Regions from separate parts of the Homo sapiens genome. Here all the other regions are linked to region 2. Evidence: fine-mapped expression QTL. A gene starts in region 2. Each other region holds a variant in brackets. All regions are shown on one strand. Distances are from middle to middle.

Evidence for each region. PIP is the estimated chance that this variant, and not a neighbour inherited with it, causes the effect. A credible set is the group of variants that fine-mapping cannot tell apart.
Region 1: its variant is the best candidate, but not a certain one, in a credible set for the expression of HYAL1 in left ventricle (GTEx, PIP 0.60).
Region 3: its variant is the best candidate, but not a certain one, in a credible set for the expression of HYAL1 in lung (TOPMed, PIP 0.68).

Annotation. Positions count from the first base shown.
Region 1 is chr3:50,162,283-50,165,033 of GRCh38, reverse strand. The region is part of intron 2 of SEMA3F (semaphorin 3F); the gene reads right to left. Among named protein-coding and RNA genes, the nearest start is that of SEMA3F-AS1, 7.6 kb to the right of the region's middle. The variant A/G (reference allele first, on the strand shown) is at 1,678.
Region 2 is chr3:50,302,561-50,305,264 of GRCh38, reverse strand. HYAL1 (hyaluronidase 1) reads left to right here and starts at 1,691. Exons shown (of 4, transcript NM_033159.4): 1 at 1,691-1,799; 2 at 2,285-2,704. The coding sequence starts at 2,309. RefSeq lists enhancers at 1,286-1,455, 1,273-2,207.
Region 3 is chr3:50,140,143-50,142,893 of GRCh38, reverse strand. All of the region lies in intron 1 of SEMA3F-AS1 (SEMA3F antisense RNA 1), which reads left to right. Among named protein-coding and RNA genes, the nearest start is that of SEMA3F, 14 kb to the left of the region's middle. RefSeq lists enhancers at 1,533-2,094, 2,095-2,656. The variant C/T (reference allele first, on the strand shown) is at 1,505.

The sequences.
Region 1 (2,751 bases), 140 kb after region 2:
AATTCTGGAGGAAGGGGTGAGGCAGTCTGGGACTCCTTGGGGCATGCCCCTGGACCTGCCCTCACCTGCACACCAGCCTCAGGATCGCTCCTGGTGACTGAGATTTCTTCCACAGTGACCATACTCACACAGTTAATCCTCCTGACAACACAACGAGGCCAGTATTGTTCTTACTCCCATTTTCCAGAAAAGGCAGTGGGAACACAGAATGATGTTCACCAAGCAAGATCCACCCATGGCCAGGATGCAAGCAAGACAGTCTGAGCCCTCATGATGCTGCTTCCACAGGGCCACTGCCATTCCCACCTTACACAGGAGAAACCAGGGCTCAGAGAGGCTAAGCCACTTGGCTGAACTCACACAGCTAACACTGGTAGAACTGGGTTTTGCCTTTGGGACCAGCTAGCTCAGCCACCACCATCACCACTTCTGCATTACACCAAATTTAAGCACCCCACTCTCCTGAGTGAGGAGATGGAGGTCTCCCAGGAGTCAAGGACCAGGTACCCATGGCCCTAAAGCCACCTTCTGAGCTATTACCACCTCTGGAGGAGTCAAGGGGCCGGAGGTGCATACACACAGGTGCAGACAGCCAAGAGCCCACTCTGAGGCTCACTGTCTCCCAAGCTGCAGGGTGAAAGATGCCTTTATGGGCTGGTGAGATTTTTATCTTGGCGGTTTCTCTTTAAATTCTTTACGATTACGAAGCAGTGGGGGCTGCCAAGGAACATGATTTACTCCTTGAGCATGCACCAGCTCCTCACTTAGTGCCAAGGGAAGCTGGAGCCAGGGAAGGAGGGGCGGGCATCATGCCAGGGAACCAGAGACAAGGCCTGTGCTGCGGAGGCCCAGACAGTGGAGGTCCCATCTGAAGCTCCACTTGACCTGGAAGGCCACAGCTGAAAGCCCCAGCCCCTGGCCTGGCTGACCCAGGCTGGGCGTCAGGCAGGTTCTCCAGCAAGCACAAGGACCCTGTCTCCATTCTCTCCAAAGACCAATTCCTAGCCAGTTGGGGGATGTGCAGCTTCCAGGACCTCCCAACTCCAAAGCGGCCACTTCCAAGTCTCTCAGGAGTAAGGCAGCTCCCATTTCCAGAAAACTGAAACTCCAGATCTGGCCTCAAGGGATCTGGGCTCAAGTTCATGCTTTGGGTCTTCCTTCCTCCCTCATCCTGGCGTATCCTGGAACACCTACCCTCCCTGGCTTGTGAGCTCCAACCCCCACTGTAGCTGCCAGAGCCACCTGACCCTTGCCCAGCTCCCTGGTGCCACACTGGCCTCAAAGCTCCTGGGCCTCCTCCCCCTCCTCCCCCACCAAAGCCCCATGCCTTGCTCTGGCTGGCCAAGGAGCCCCTGGGGGGCAAGAGCATGTCCTCTAGCTCTCCAGCCCCACCCCTACTCCTGCACCAGGCCTGAGGGCTAAGGCCCCATCAAGGCTTGCTAGAGGCACCTCAACTCACATCAACTCCTGAGGGGAAGTCAACGGGCTGTGACCCTTCCTAACCTCTAACCTCATCATCTCCAAACCTGGCAACCTTGGTCCTCTGATGCCACATGCAAATGATGTGAGCGGTGGCACTGTTCTGGGCTATTGGCCTGGAGGGCTCAAACTCCAGGCTGCTCTGGAACAGGAGCCCTTTCCTCTCTTAGGCCCTGATGTTCCCATCTCTGACATGAG[A/G]GGCCTTCCTAGGGACCCTGCTCAGTGGAAGGGCCAGAGTGATGGAGGGCCGGATTTATAGCCTGGAAATAAGCAAACCCCAATTCCGTTGCTTCGGCAGACAGAGGGCATGGGGAGCCTGCCCAGTGCGACCCCAGCCCTTTCTTTGGGAAACGAGGCTAGGAAGCCTAAACCAGCACTGCAGAATGCTGGAATCTTCCTTGTTCCTAGCTCATGTGAAGGGTCTGTGCCTCCAGCACCACCACCATCCCTGCCCTCCACTCTCAGTCCTGGGACAGCCTCAGGCATCAGGCGGATGCAGGCTCCATCTCAGTCCTGCTCCTGAGTGACCTGGGAAGCCGCTCAGCCCCCGTAAGCCTCCTTCCTCACAGGAAACCTAGGCAGACCCTCTTTAGGTCTTGGAGGGACCATTGCTTGGTTATCCTCATGGGCTCCTACTACTATTTCGATTATGTTCATCTTTCCTGACCTCCCCTGGCAGGGTGACCTTCTGCTCCCTCTCCCTACTTCTGCCTCAGCTTCCCTAGCAGCACAACTGTCTCATGTCATCACAGGGTCCTTCTACCCCACCAAACATCTCTTGGCCCCAATCCCTGGCCAAACCCAGCCCAGGCAGCAGCAGTGTGTCGTGGGGTAGCTTCCTGGGAAAAAGTAAACACTCCCCAGGCTGAACAAAGGGCCTGGCAGGGCCCTCACACCTCCCTGCTGCTGCCACGGAGGGAGGTGGTGCCCCAGAGCCTGGGTCATCTCAAGGTGGGGGAAGGAAGAGCTTTTTCTCTGAGATTTGGCAGTGATTCTGCAGTGTAGGGGACTCCAGGCCCAGGCATGGATGGGTGAAGGAAGGAGGGTCTGTCCAGGCTTCCAGCCCAGGCTCCACTCTCTCAAGAGCAAGGAATGAACAAACACCTCACCTGCTCCTGGAAATCTCCATTTGACCCTCACTTCTGCCTGATTTTGGCTGTGCTGCTGAAGCCCAGAAGCTGGGCCATAGGAGCCCCCCTAATCTGAGGGAACCCTGGGCTGCTTGACCCTCACACCCTTCTGGCTCTAGACCTGGCTGGGGTGCCCAGGCGG
Region 2 (2,704 bases):
CTCAAAAAATAAAAATAAAAAAAAAACAGAAGTACATAAGCTCTGTCCAGAGAGGTGGAGACAGCTCAAAGCACGGCCCCCCACTGGGGGCTTCCAGGTCACAGGCAGGTGACAGACAGATGGTTGCATTCTTTTGAGTTTCTGGTAGTCTTTCCAAAAGAGGCAATGGAGGCAATCATAATATGCATCTATGTCTGTAAGCAAAAGGATGACTTGAATAGAATGGGAGGCAGATTTGTCCTGAGCGGTTCCCAGCTTGAAGGGGCCCAAGATATTTTCCTTTCACATATTGAACAAGTGAAACCACAAATGAATGAACAAGCATGTGCTCACTGACAGCTCATATGCATGGTCACACAAACACAGGATCTCATGCTCACAAGACAGCAGGGCTCACACACACCCAGTCCCAGGCACTGGGTTCCACACTCACACCTACTTGCCACTGGAATTTGTGCAGAGGCTCAGATGGTCACTAAATGGGGCTTCACAAAGACACAGTCACTAACCCAGCACATATACAAAGGGTGATGACACAGCCCTGACTTCATGAACACAGTGCCTTTCAGAAACAGGTCCCTACAACAGGGATGACTTATCCACTAAGCACAATAGACCCAAGGCCTAGGGCCACAGTACTTTCAGGGGCCCACAAAATGTTTTTTTAATCAGAAGAAGAATATAAATGTAAATATATTAATAATTAATATATAATAGTGTAACCCAGACATGACCTCCTGGGCTCAAGCACTCCTCCTGCCTCAGTGTCCCAAGTAGCTGGGACTACAGGTACATACCACCATGCCCAGCTAATTTTTAATTTTTTTGTAGAGATGGGGTCTTGCTACATTGCCTAGGCTGGTCTCGAACTCCTGGGCTCAAGCAATTCTCCCACCTCAGCCTCCCAAAGTGCTAAGACTATAGCCATATATATATATATATATATATATATATATATATATATATATTTTTTTTTTTTTTTTTTTTTTTGAGATGGAGTCGCTCTCTGTCACCCAGGCTGGAGTATAGTAGCACAGTGGAGCAGTCTTGGCTCACTGCAACCTCTGCCTCCCGGGTTCAAGGGATTGTCCTGCCTCAGCCTCCCGAGTAGCTGGGATTACAGGCGCCTGCCACCACGCCCGGCTAATTTTTTGTATTTTTAGTAGAGAAGGGGTTTCACCATGTTAGCCGGGATGGTCTCGATCTCCTGACCTCGTGATCTGCCACCTCGGCTTCCCAAAGTGCTAGGATTATAGGCGTGAGCCTCCGCACCTGGCATGCCTGGCCATATTTTAAAATATTTTTTTTAAGGAGGAAAAGATCCACGAAAGTAAAGTGCCTAGGGCCCATCAATGTCAGATGCAGCCACGTGGACAAAGAACACTCCCTGAGCACAAGACACGAAAGAACCCGGTCTCCAGTGTCACAAACAGGCCTGCCCAGCAGGGTCTGCCCCTGCCCACCTCCTCCAGCCTAGGTAAGGCCACAAAGCCCTGCCCTAGTGCTGACAGCGTGGGAGGGGCCACTGTTGGCCCAGCCCCACCCCCAACCAAGATCCCTTTGCCAGGGATTCAGAGGTAGCCCTGATGCCTGGCTGGCCTGGCCTCCTAATCCAAGGCCCGCCCCTTGGCCCGCCCCTGGCCTGGGTGGGGTGACCCCCTACAAAAGCTCAGAATTTCCAGCAGCGGCTCCTTCCTCCAGGAGTCTCTGGTGCAGCTGGGGTGGAATCTGGCCAGGCCCTGCTTAGGCCCCCATCCTGGGGTCAGGAAATTTGGAGGATAAGGCCCTTCAGCCCCAAGGTCAGCAGGGACGAGCGGGCAGACTGGCGGGTGTACAGGAGGGCTGGGTTGACCTGTCCTTGGTCACTGAGGCCATTGGATCTTCCTCCAGTGGCTGCCAGGATTTCTGGTGGAAGAGACAGGAAGGCCTCCCCCCCTTGGTCGGGTCAGCCTGGGGGCTGAGGGCCTGGCTGTCAGCCACTCTTCCCAGAACATATGTCATGGCCTCAGTGGCTCATGGGGAAGCAGGGGTGGGCGAGCTTAGGCTAGAGCAAGTCCTGTGGGAGATGGCAGAGGCCTGGTCTGAGAGGCAACTCGGATGTGCCCTCCAGTGGCCATGCTCCCCTCCATGCGTCTCCCCTGCCCTCCTGGAGCCCTGCAGGTCAATGTTTAACAGAAACCAGAGCAGCGGTGGATTAATGCGCAAGGGCTCAGCCCCCCAGCCCTGAGCAGTGGGGGAATCGGAGACTTTGCAACCTGTTCTCAGCTCTGCCTCCCCTGGCCAGGTTGTCCTCGACCAGTCCCGTGCCATGGCAGCCCACCTGCTTCCCATCTGCGCCCTCTTCCTGACCTTACTCGATATGGCCCAAGGCTTTAGGGGCCCCTTGCTACCCAACCGGCCCTTCACCACCGTCTGGAATGCAAACACCCAGTGGTGCCTGGAGAGGCACGGTGTGGACGTGGATGTCAGTGTCTTCGATGTGGTAGCCAACCCAGGGCAGACCTTCCGCGGCCCTGACATGACAATTTTCTATAGCTCCCAGCTGGGCACCTACCCCTACTACACGCCCACTGGGGAGCCTGTGTTTGGTGGTCTGCCCCAGAATGCCAGCCTGATTGCCCACCTGGCCCGCACATTCCAGGACATCCTGGCTGCCATACCTGCTCCTGACTTCTCAGGGCTGGCAGTCATCGACTGGGAGGCA
Region 3 (2,751 bases), 160 kb after region 2:
ACCTCACCAGGCCTTACTCGACCTACCCAAACATCAGAATCATGAGGCTGGGGCTGGGCGTGGTGGCTCACACCTGTAATCCCAGCACTTTGGGAGGCAGAAGTGGGCAGATCACTTGAGGTCAGGAGTTCAAGACCAGCCTGGCCAACATGGTGAAACCCTGTCTCTAGTAAAAATACAAAAATTAGTTGAGTGTGGTGGTGGGCACCTGTAGTCTCAGTTACTTGGAAGCCTGAGGCAGGAGAATTGCTTGAAGCCGGGAGGCAGAGGTTGCAGTGAGCCGAGATTGCACCACTGCACTCCAGCCTAGGGACAGAGCAAGAATCCTTCTCAAAAATGAAAGAAAGAAGAAAGAGAGAAAGAGAGAAAGAAAGGAAGGAAGGAAGGAAGAAAGGAAAGAAAGAAAGAGAGAGAAAGTAAGGAAGAGAGGGAGGGAGGAAGGAAGGAAGGAAAGAAGGAAGGAGAGAGACAAAGAAAGAAAGAAAGAAAAAGAAAGAGACAGAAAGAGAAAGAGAGAGACCAGACGCAGTGGCTCACGCCTGTAATCCCAGCACTCTGGGTGGCCGAGGCAGGTGGATCACCTGAGGTCAGGAGTTCAAGAGCAGCCTGGCCAACATGGTGAAACCCTGTCTCTACTAAAAATACAAAAATTAGCTGGGCTTGGTGGCGCACGCCTGTAGTCTCAGCTACTCGGGAGGCTGAGGCAGGAGAATTGCTTGAACCTGGGAGGCAGAGGTTGCAGTGAGCCCAGTGCACTCCAGCTTGAGCGAGAGAGTGAGACTCTGTCAAAAAAAAAAAGAAAAAAGAAAGAGGAAGGAAGGAAGGGAGAGAGAGAGACAGAAAGAAAGAAAGAAAGAAAGAAAGAAAGAAAGAAAGAAAGAAAGAAAAGAAAAGGAAAGAAAACAAGGAAGGAAGGAGGGAGGGAAGGAATGAGGGAAGAGAGAGAAAGAAAAGAAAGAAAGAAAGAAAGAAGAAAGAAAAAGAAAGAAAGAAGAAAGAAAAAGAAAGAAAGAAAAAGAAGAGAGGAAGGAAGGATGGAAGGAAGGAAGGGCCGGGCGCGGTGGCTCATGCCTGTAATCCCAGCACTTTGGGAGGCCGAGATGGGTGGATCACAAGGTCAGGAGATTGAGACCATTCTGGCTAATACAGTGAAACCCTGTCTCTACTAAAAATACAAAAGAATTAGCTGGACGTGGTGGCGGGCACCTGTGGTCCCACCTAATCTGGAGGCTGAGGCAGGAGAATGGTGTGAACCCTGGAGGTGGAGCTTGCAGCGAGCCAAGATTGCGCCACTGCACTCCAGCCTGGGCGACAGAGCGAGACCCCATGGAAAGAAAGAAAGAAAGAAAGAAAGAAAAAAAGAAAGAGAGAGAGAGGGAGGGAGGGAGGGAGGGAGCAAGGAAGGAAGGAAGGAAGGAAAGAAGGAAGGAAGGAGGGAAGGAGAAGGAAAGAAAAAAAAGAGAGAAGAAGGACTCACGAGGCTGGGGCTGGGGGTGCATGTGCA[C/T]GCATGTGCATGGACGCCTCCTGCAGGCCCCATGATGGGCCCCAGCTCCAGGCCTGGCTGTATGAGGCTCTCACCCTCCCATGGGTATGCACTTGCCCCCAGTTTCCTCAGCTGTTAAATGAGAGCAAGTTTCTTCCTCACAGGGTGCCGAAAGGATCAAACTAGCCACCGAGCACAGATTGCCGGAGCAGCATCTAGTGTGTAGGGCGCAGGCTCCCTGAGTCACCTTTGTTATGACTTATCAGCCCTCCCCGGTAGATGACAGGGAGACGTAGACGCCATCACTGGGGCACAAGAGACTGTGGAATTGCTCTGTTGCGGCCCCAGGAGAGAGTGGGGGCGCATTTATCTTCTCATCCAACCGAAGGGTCCACTCAGGTTGGGGCAGTCCTCAACTGCCCAGCCTTGACCCTGTCTTCTGCCATTGCTTCTGATCTTTGGGCATCCAGGCCTGCATGGTGGCCCACCTAGCACACACGTTACACCCACCGGAGCCTCCACAGGCAAAGACAACATTACTGTCCTCCGCAGGACCAGGGCGGGTGGAGGAGGGACCAGCACGTGGGTTGTCAGGGGAATGGCAGGCCACCTGGGTCTCCTGGGCCCCCACCTCTCTCCTTCCTTAAATAGGACAGCCCCACTCTGGCTCTCCCACTCTGGCTCTGACCCCAACACCCAGCCCACAGTTCCTGTAAACAATTATGCACCAGGAGCTGTAGGGCAAGAAGATGAAGCCCCAGGTCAGCAGGGAGGTGTCCGGGTGACGGGGTGCAGAGGGTGCCCTGGGGCTGAGAGGGTGACTGAAGGAAGGCTGCCTAGAGGAGGTGACACTGCTGCTGGGCCTTAAAGGACGCATCACAGATATCCTGTCCTGAAGGATGAGTGAACAGTGGTGGGAGAGCCTGGAGGCATGCCCTGCCATGGTGTGTCCTGGAGGCCAGAGTGTGGTGCTGTCTGGGGCAGGACTCAGGCAGCTTCACAACCTCCTAGCGATGGGTGATAGGGTGAGGGCAGCGGCAGTGGCACATGAGCTTCACCTGGGCTGGCTCTTCCAAGGGCCAGGGGGGCCTGGACGGAGCAGCAGAGCAGCAGAGTGAAGGCAGACGTGGGCCCTCGAACAGTCCTTGGGGAGGACCCAGCCGGAGGTGCCTAGGCTAGGTGGGCAGGCTCAGCTGGCCCCAGGAAGCAGAGCTGCACGGAACCAGGGGCTGGGGCTGGGCACTGCTGGAGACTGCCAGCCTGGGGGG